Linked DNA regions of Homo sapiens. The gene in region 1 interacts genetically with each later gene. Each region holds a gene or a part of one and is shown in the gene's direction. Other genes may lie near its edges. The genes, in order: ARIH1 and DICER1.

Region 1 (3,819 bases):
AGTAGAGATGGGGGTTTCTCCATGTTGGTCAGGCTGGTCTCAAACTCCCGACCTCAGGTGATCTGCCCGCCTCGGCCTCCCAAAGTTCTGGGATCACAGTGAGCCACCTTGCCCGGCCTTGTTTTGTTTTTAATCTGGGACTGAAAATGAGGGAGTTGAAATACTAGGTTGGTCCTTTTTTACATTAAGTGTTTTATTCGTTTAACATCATTTTAAAAACCTCAGTTAATTGGAGATGTTCATTTTTTCCAAGAAATTGAATTCAGGTGTGCATATTGTGGTTATGTTCATTAATTGGGAGAGGAGGAAGAGGGTGTACAAGCCTGTGCATGATGTGTGCAGGCACATGTGTTTTGAAGTTATTAAAGTGTTTGATATAGTTTAGATTTATTTCTTTTGGACTTTTATATTTTCCCAGCTGATCTCCTTGAGCTGTAAGTTTAAATTACACTGACTTGTTGAATTGCTATGGCAGTAGTCCTATGAATCAAACTCTGGGGATGGGGTCTGGCTGTCTGTTTTAACAAGCCTTCTAGGTGATGGTGATGCAAGCTAAAGTTTGAGAACTGCTGATGTAGTTGAAATTTAATAGCAGTGTTTCTCTATGTGTTACGTGTAGTGATAGATTACTACAGAGGTGGGTTAATGAGGGAAGATAAATTGTTTAAGAAACTAATAATAGGGGACCAGTCACGGTGGCTCACACCTGTAATCCCAGCACTTTGGGGACTGTGCCAGGCAGATCACTTGAGGTCAGGAGTTTGAGACCAGCCTGGCCAATATGGTGAAACACTAGCTGGGCGTGGTGGCCTGTGCCTGTAATCCCAGCTACTTGGGAGACTTGAGGCAGGAGAATTGCTTGAACCTGGGAATTGGAGGTTGCAGTGAGCTGAGATAGTGTCACTGCACTCTAGCCTGGGTGACAGAGGGAGACTCTACTTCAAAAAAAAGGTAATAATGGGAAAATTTCCAGAACCTAGGCAACGTTTACTAGGCTAATCATAGGGTTGGAAGATGTTTGTCATCGTAGATGCTATCCTTCATGCTATGCTATCCTTCAGCTAAGGTGGTCTTTACTCAGTATTTTCTTTTCTTTTCTTTTCTTTTTTGGAGACAGAGTCTTTTCTCTCTTGCCCAGGCTGGGGTGCAGTGGCGCCATCTCGGCTCACTGCAACCTTCGCCTGCTGGGTTCAAGCGATTCTCCTCCTTCAGCCTCCCGAGTAGCTGGGATTACAGGCGCCCACCACTACGCCCGGCTAATTTTGTATTTTTGGTAGAGACGGGGTTTCACCATGTTGGCCAGGCTGATCTCGAACTCCTGACCTCAGGTGATCCACCCGACTTGGCCTCCCAAAGTGCTGGGATTACAGGCATGAGCCACTGCACCCGGCCAGTATTTTCAAATAGACAAACTAAACTAGTGACATCTGACATTCTAGATTGGAGTTCTTGATTTCCCTTCCAGTCCTAGATTTTTTTAATATAGAATGTTGAGTTTTCTAATTTATTAGTATGCTGGAAGAGATATAAAGTCCTGGATAGATATAAAGTCCTGTTTAAAGGAATATGAGAAGACTTATTCTTAAGGAGTTGAGAATCTCTTAGAGTTAAAGCTGTTAGGTTAGTGAGTAATTTAAATAAGTGGATAGTAATAGATACTCATGGAAGAGACCTCTGTAGGTGTTGTCAAAGATGGCTAGGATTTGGGTGGATAAAAAAGAGGAAGTCATTCTAAGGAACTGAATGAGGTGAGAATGAGGAGAGTTTTTGGGTAATGGTGAAATCAGCTAAAGTAGAATGGAGCTTATAAATGCTGGATAATAATGTAGAACCTGGGAGATTAAATACTGTGATGAAAGGTAAGCAGAAGTCATCACATTAGATTCTTTTGGGGTTGACCTGTGGTAACTATGTAGATTGGTTATCTTTTGCCTTATGTTACCCCAAAACTTAGTGGCTTAAAAAAACAAGGATCTGTTATATCATAGTTTCTGTGAGTCACAATTCTGGATGCAGCTTACCTGGGGGCCTCTGGCTTATGGTCTCTTACAAGGCTGCAACCAAGGTGACGGCTTGGTAGCAGTTCTCTCTCTCTCTTTTTTTTTTTTTTTTTTAAAGACAGAGGCTTGCTGTGGTGCCCAGGCTGGAGTGCAATGGCATAATCTCGGCTCATTGCAACCCTCACCTCTTGAGTCCAAGTGATCCTCTTACCTCAGCCTCCTGAGTAGTTGGGACTATAGATGTGCACCACCACACCCCAGCTTATTTTTTTGTTTTTGTGGGTTTTTTGGTAGAGACCAGTATTTTTTTGTTTTGCCATGTTGCCTAGGCTGCTCTTGAACACCTTAATTCAAGGGATCTGCCCGCCTTAGCCTCCTAAAGTGCTGGGATTACAGGCATGAGCCACCGTGTCTGGCCTGGGTAGCAGTCCTCAAGGCTTGACTGGGGAAGCTTCCCCTTCCGAGCTCACTCATTTGGCTGTGACCAGGCCAGATTTTCACTGGCTGGTTGTTGCCCAGAGATATCAGTTCCTTGCCATGTGGGCCTCTCCATAAAGTGGCTGACAACACAGTAGCTTGTTTCCTCCAGAGTGAGGGATCTTAGAGAAAAGGCCCATACGATGGAAGCCACAAAGTTTTTATAACTTAATTTCAGAAGTAACGTCGCATCACTTTGCAATATTCTATTTGTTGTAAGTGAATAACCAAATCCAGCCCATACTCAATCGGAGGGGATTATACAAAGATGTGAAGACCAGGAGGCAGGGGTCTTTGGGGGCTATCTTAGAGGCCGGCTGTTTGTCTCTGTCTCTCTCTGTTAAGAGGTAAATTACAGCTATTGTATAATGCCTTTCTATCCAATCTTTTTGTATGCTATTGGGAGAACATAGTGTTTTGGATTTTTTATTTTGGATTAACCGTAAATTAATTACTTTTGGCTTTGCAAAACATTATACCTGTAAATGATAAACATTCCTAATAACCTTTCAGTGGCTTAAGTTTAAAATAGCTTGTAGTCTCAGAATTGGTAGGAATTTGAGATTCTCCAGTTTACTGATTTTTTTTTTTTTTAACTCTAGCTACGTAATGGAATCACCTGGGGATTTTTTTCATTACTGTTTTTAAAATAGAAAATTGTAGATTCACAGCCGGGCATGGTGGCTCACGCCTGTAATCCCAGCACTTTGGGAGGCCGAGGCAGGCGGATCACCTGAAGTCAGGAGTTCGAGACCAGCCTGGCCAAATGGCGAAACCCCGTCTCTACTAAAAAAATACAAAAATTAGCCGGGCATGGTGGTGGGCGCCTGTAATCCCAGCTACTCGGGAGGCTGAGGCAGGAGAATCACTTGAACCCAGGAGACAGAGGTTGCAGTGAGCCAAGATTATGCCATTGCACTCCAGCCTGGGCAACAAGAGTGAAACTCCATCAAAAAAAAAAAAAAAAAAGAAGAAAAGAAAAGAAAATTGTAGATTCACATGCAGTTACAAGAAATAATGCAAAAATCCCACATATTCTTTTTTCCAAAAAATTTTATTTCCCTAGGTTATTGGGGAAGAGGTGGTATTTGGTTACATAAGTAAATTCTTTAGTGGTGATTTGTGAGATTTTGGTGCACCCATCATCTGAGCAATATACACTGAACCCAGTTTGTAGTGTTTTATCTCTCACCCCCTTCTCACCTTTTTCCCCCGAGTCCCCAGAGTTCATTATATCAATCTTAGGCTTTTGCATGCTGATAGCTTAGCTCCCACTTATGAGTGAGAACATATAATGTTTGGTTTTCTGTTCTTGATTTACTTCTCTTAGAATAATAAGTCT
Region 2 (3,819 bases), on another chromosome or scaffold:
TGGTCTAGTAATATAATGGAGGATGAAGGAAAAGAGGGCTTGAGAACAATATTTTACAGACAAGTTTTCGAGGAGGATTATCTATACTGGTTCAGCTATCTTAGTTGGTCTCTGTAGTAGTGATACCAAATGTAACAGTGCCTTAAACGTCTCTTAACTTTCCCTAAATAACACATTCTTCATCTGCTATGCATGAATTAACACATCATCCTTGAAATCATACTTCAATTCAGTGTATAAAGCCAAGTGTTTTGTAAAATAAACCTCAAGTTAGGTTTTATGTTTCCTTATGATTAGATTCAGGTTTCAGCTGGGCACAGTGGCTCACTCCTGTAATCTCAGCACTTTAGGAGGCCAAGGCAGGAGGATCTCTAGAACCTAAGAGTTTGAGGTAGCAGTGAGCTATAATTGTGCCACTGCACTCCAGTCTGGGCAACAGAGCGAGACTCTGTTCCCCTCTTTCCCCCGGCAAAAATAGATTCAAGTTTTGTACTTTCAGTAGGAAAACTACATTAGGTATGTGTTGTCAGTTTGTCCTAATACTGGTGATCTTAGCTTTGTCACTTGGATTAAAGGGGTATCTATCTGGTTTTTCCACTGAATAAAAATACTAGTTTTCATTTGTAATTAGTAGGTAATCTGCAGAAAAGCTTTCAGGCTATGTAAATATTCTTTAGTAACCTTCACCCAATGGTTTTAGCATCCATTAATGATCCTTGCTTCAATCACTAATGTGATGGTTAAAAATGGTGACTTTTCTGTCATTCCTTCTACATTTATTAGTTGACATTCAGTAGAGTTTCGCCTGAATTTTAAACCTAACAAAATACGATTTCTTTTTTGTTGTTGTTAATGCTGAGTCTTGCTCTGTCTCTCAGGCTGGGGTGCAGTGGCGTGATCTTAGCTTACTGCAACCTCTGGCTCCTGGGTTCAAGCGATTCTCCTGTGTCAGCCTCCTGAGTAGCTGGGACTACAGGTGCAAGCCACTATATTGAGCTAATTTTTGTATTTTTTAAGTGGAGACGGGGTTTCACCATGTTAGCCAAGCTGGTCTCGAACTCCTGACCTCAAGTGATTCACCTGTCTCTGCCTCCCAAAGTGCTGGGATTGCAGGCATGAGCCACCGTGCCCGGCCTACAAAATACAGTTTGTAAAATGAGAAACTAAGTTGAGAAATAAGACTGTCTTGAGTTGGGTTTTCCCAGTTGCACCTGTAACTTTAAGAACTTTAAAATTGTTTCTGAAACATCTTCAAGGTTGGAGTCAGATTAGTTTGCATTAATATGGAAGAGAATTTTGTAGTGGTTGGAAGTTAACTGAGAAAACTAGGATGGGTATAGTCAGATGATACCAAAATTATCATTGCACTAACTGATACCTCTCTAGCTTTGACAGTTTCTAGTTAGCCTCGAATTATTCTTTTGGACTTGGGTGCCAAGATCGAGGATGTTAAGCTTGTTGAAATAATTTGGGTTGTTTAAAGTCTTTTAATTTAAAAGTGTCTAATTTGAGTTTTATATTTGACCTATAAAAAGCTGCTTTAATTCAATAGTTAAGATCAATAAAGCTTATTCTCAACATCGAATTAATTAATAAAAAATTATTCATGGATATTTACTTTCCTACATTCCAAACTACCTAGTCATTACAAATTTACAGTAACGTGAAAATCAAACAAATCATGAACTATGTAATATGAATGTGAGTATAGTATGAGATTATCTTTCAAAGATCTTAATACTCTTGAGGGAGATGGCAATAACAGCTAATATATGGGGCAGTAATATAATGAAGCCCGTGATGATTTGGGTGTTGTAGCTAGCCCATGTGTGCTAAATGAGAGGGGAGGGGACTAAAGTGATAGAGGTTTTTAGGGAAAGTTGTGGGGTGGGGTTCGTGAGAGGTGGCGAACTCTGTTGGTACACACTTGTTTTGGTGTTACGGGAAAGGCAGATAACATGAGATGTTGCGCAGAAGCTATGATGATGTAGTGCGTCACACTCTTGCCTGGACCTTTTAATATATTTGCTTTCCTGTCTCAATAAACATCCATCTTAACTCAGTAGTCTCTTATGTTCATTTTGTCTCTGGATTGACCTCCCTTTAGTATTTAAGTATTCATGTTATATATCTTAAAACAGCTTGACAAAGAGAAAATTGTGGCTCCTTTTTCCCAATGGATGCTCTTTCTTGGTGTAAAGGTAGAGGGTAGTCGTGAATTGAATAAAATTCTAGCACTCGTTGCACAGTGTTAAGAGTAAAGTATGTGCCTGTAGTCTCAGCTGCTCAGGAGGCTGAGATGGCAGGATCACTTGAGCCCAGGAGTTCAAGGCTGTAATGTGCTCTGATGGTGCCTGTAAATAGACAGAGTGAGACCCTGTCTCCAAATAAAAAATAAAAAAAAAGAGTAAAGTACAGAAACTTGGAATCAAATATGAACCTTAAAACTCACCTTGAAAGCTAGTGATGTGTTAAGTATTTATGTCTCTTGAAACAAAACTGTAGGACAAATGTCATTATAGGTAACTTGAAGGGGAGGGGTGGGTATCTGTGCTGTTTTGATGTGTTGAAATGTCATCTTTCTGAGAAGTACTCCAAGAAGTAAGCGGACCTTTGGCTTGCAGCCTGGAGACACTTCTTATATGGAGATCTTTGATGGGTGGAATTTGTTAAGATGGTATTTGACCTGTGTTCCACTTCAATTTTGGACCAATCTAATTTTAGGCATGATTATATTGAAATCTAAACATAACATATTTATGTTAGAGATTTAGAGAAACCCAGAAATTTATTTGGTTCAGATACAGTAATGCATGAAAAGAAGGCTAATGAATTTGTGGTTTAAATTGTAGGTACTATGATACTGTAAAATATATATTTGGTCTGTCCTCTACCCTATTCTTAGGCATACAAGGCTTGAAATCCTTAGAATCTCCAAAGTGATGTGTTTTTGTATGCTAATGATCGACTGGTGGCCGGTAGCTCCTGGTAGCTTCAAAATGGGGGCTGGTTACTGGGAAGACTAAGGCATGATTAGAGGTTTGGACTCAGACCCACCCTCCAACCTCTGGGGAGGGAAGAGGGGCTGAAGGTTAATCATGCCCAGGTAATGAGTCTTCATAAAAACCCTGAAGGACAGAGTTTGGAAAGCTTCTGGATAGTTGAACACATGGAGGTTCCTGGAGGGCAGTTTGCTCTGGGAGGGCTTGGAAGCTCTATACCCCTTCTCCATACCTAACCCTGTGCATGTCTTCATCTGGATCTTTGTAATATCCTTTACCTAATTAATTTACTTATTTTTATTGAGATGGACTCTCGCTGTGTTGACCAGGCCGGTCTCGAACTGCTGGCCTCAAGCGATCCTCCCATCTTGGCCTTCCAAAGTGCTAGGATTACAGGCGTGTGCCACTGCACCCAGCCTGTAATATCCTTTATAATAAACTGGTAAACATAAGTAAGTTTTTCCCCAAGGACTGTGAGCTGGTCTAGCAAGTTAAATCCCAGGAGGGCGTTGTGGGAACCCCAGTTAACTGATTGGTCGGGAGCACGGGCAAAAAATAACCTGAGGTTTGCAATTGACACGGAAGGGTGGGGGAGGTCTTGAGGACTGGAGCCCTCAACCTGTGGGATCTGATGCTATCTCCAGGTAGATAATGTTGGAATTCAGTCATTAATAGAAGACACCCAGCTGGTGTCCGCTGCAGAATTGATGGCTTGCTTGTTGTTGGGGAGAAACCCCACACATTTGGTCACAGAAATTTTATGTGGTGTGTGAGAACAAAGGAAAAACAGTTTGTGTGTGTTTTTTCCCACTCAGAT

The links.
Region 2: changes in ARIH1 (region 1) and DICER1 together harm fitness more than expected from each alone (negative genetic interaction), as found in Homo sapiens cells (one large-scale study listed by BioGRID).

What each region holds. Positions count from the first base shown.
Region 1 is NC_000015.10:72,480,744-72,484,562, forward strand, and holds part of ARIH1 (E3 ubiquitin-protein ligase ARIH1), read left to right. Parts: intron 1-3,819. UniProt on the Homo sapiens protein: E3 ubiquitin-protein ligase, which catalyzes ubiquitination of target proteins together with ubiquitin-conjugating enzyme E2 UBE2L3.
Region 2 is NC_000014.9:95,147,518-95,151,336, reverse strand, and holds part of DICER1 (endoribonuclease Dicer), read left to right. Parts: intron 1-3,819. UniProt on the Homo sapiens protein: Double-stranded RNA (dsRNA) endoribonuclease playing a central role in short dsRNA-mediated post-transcriptional gene silencing.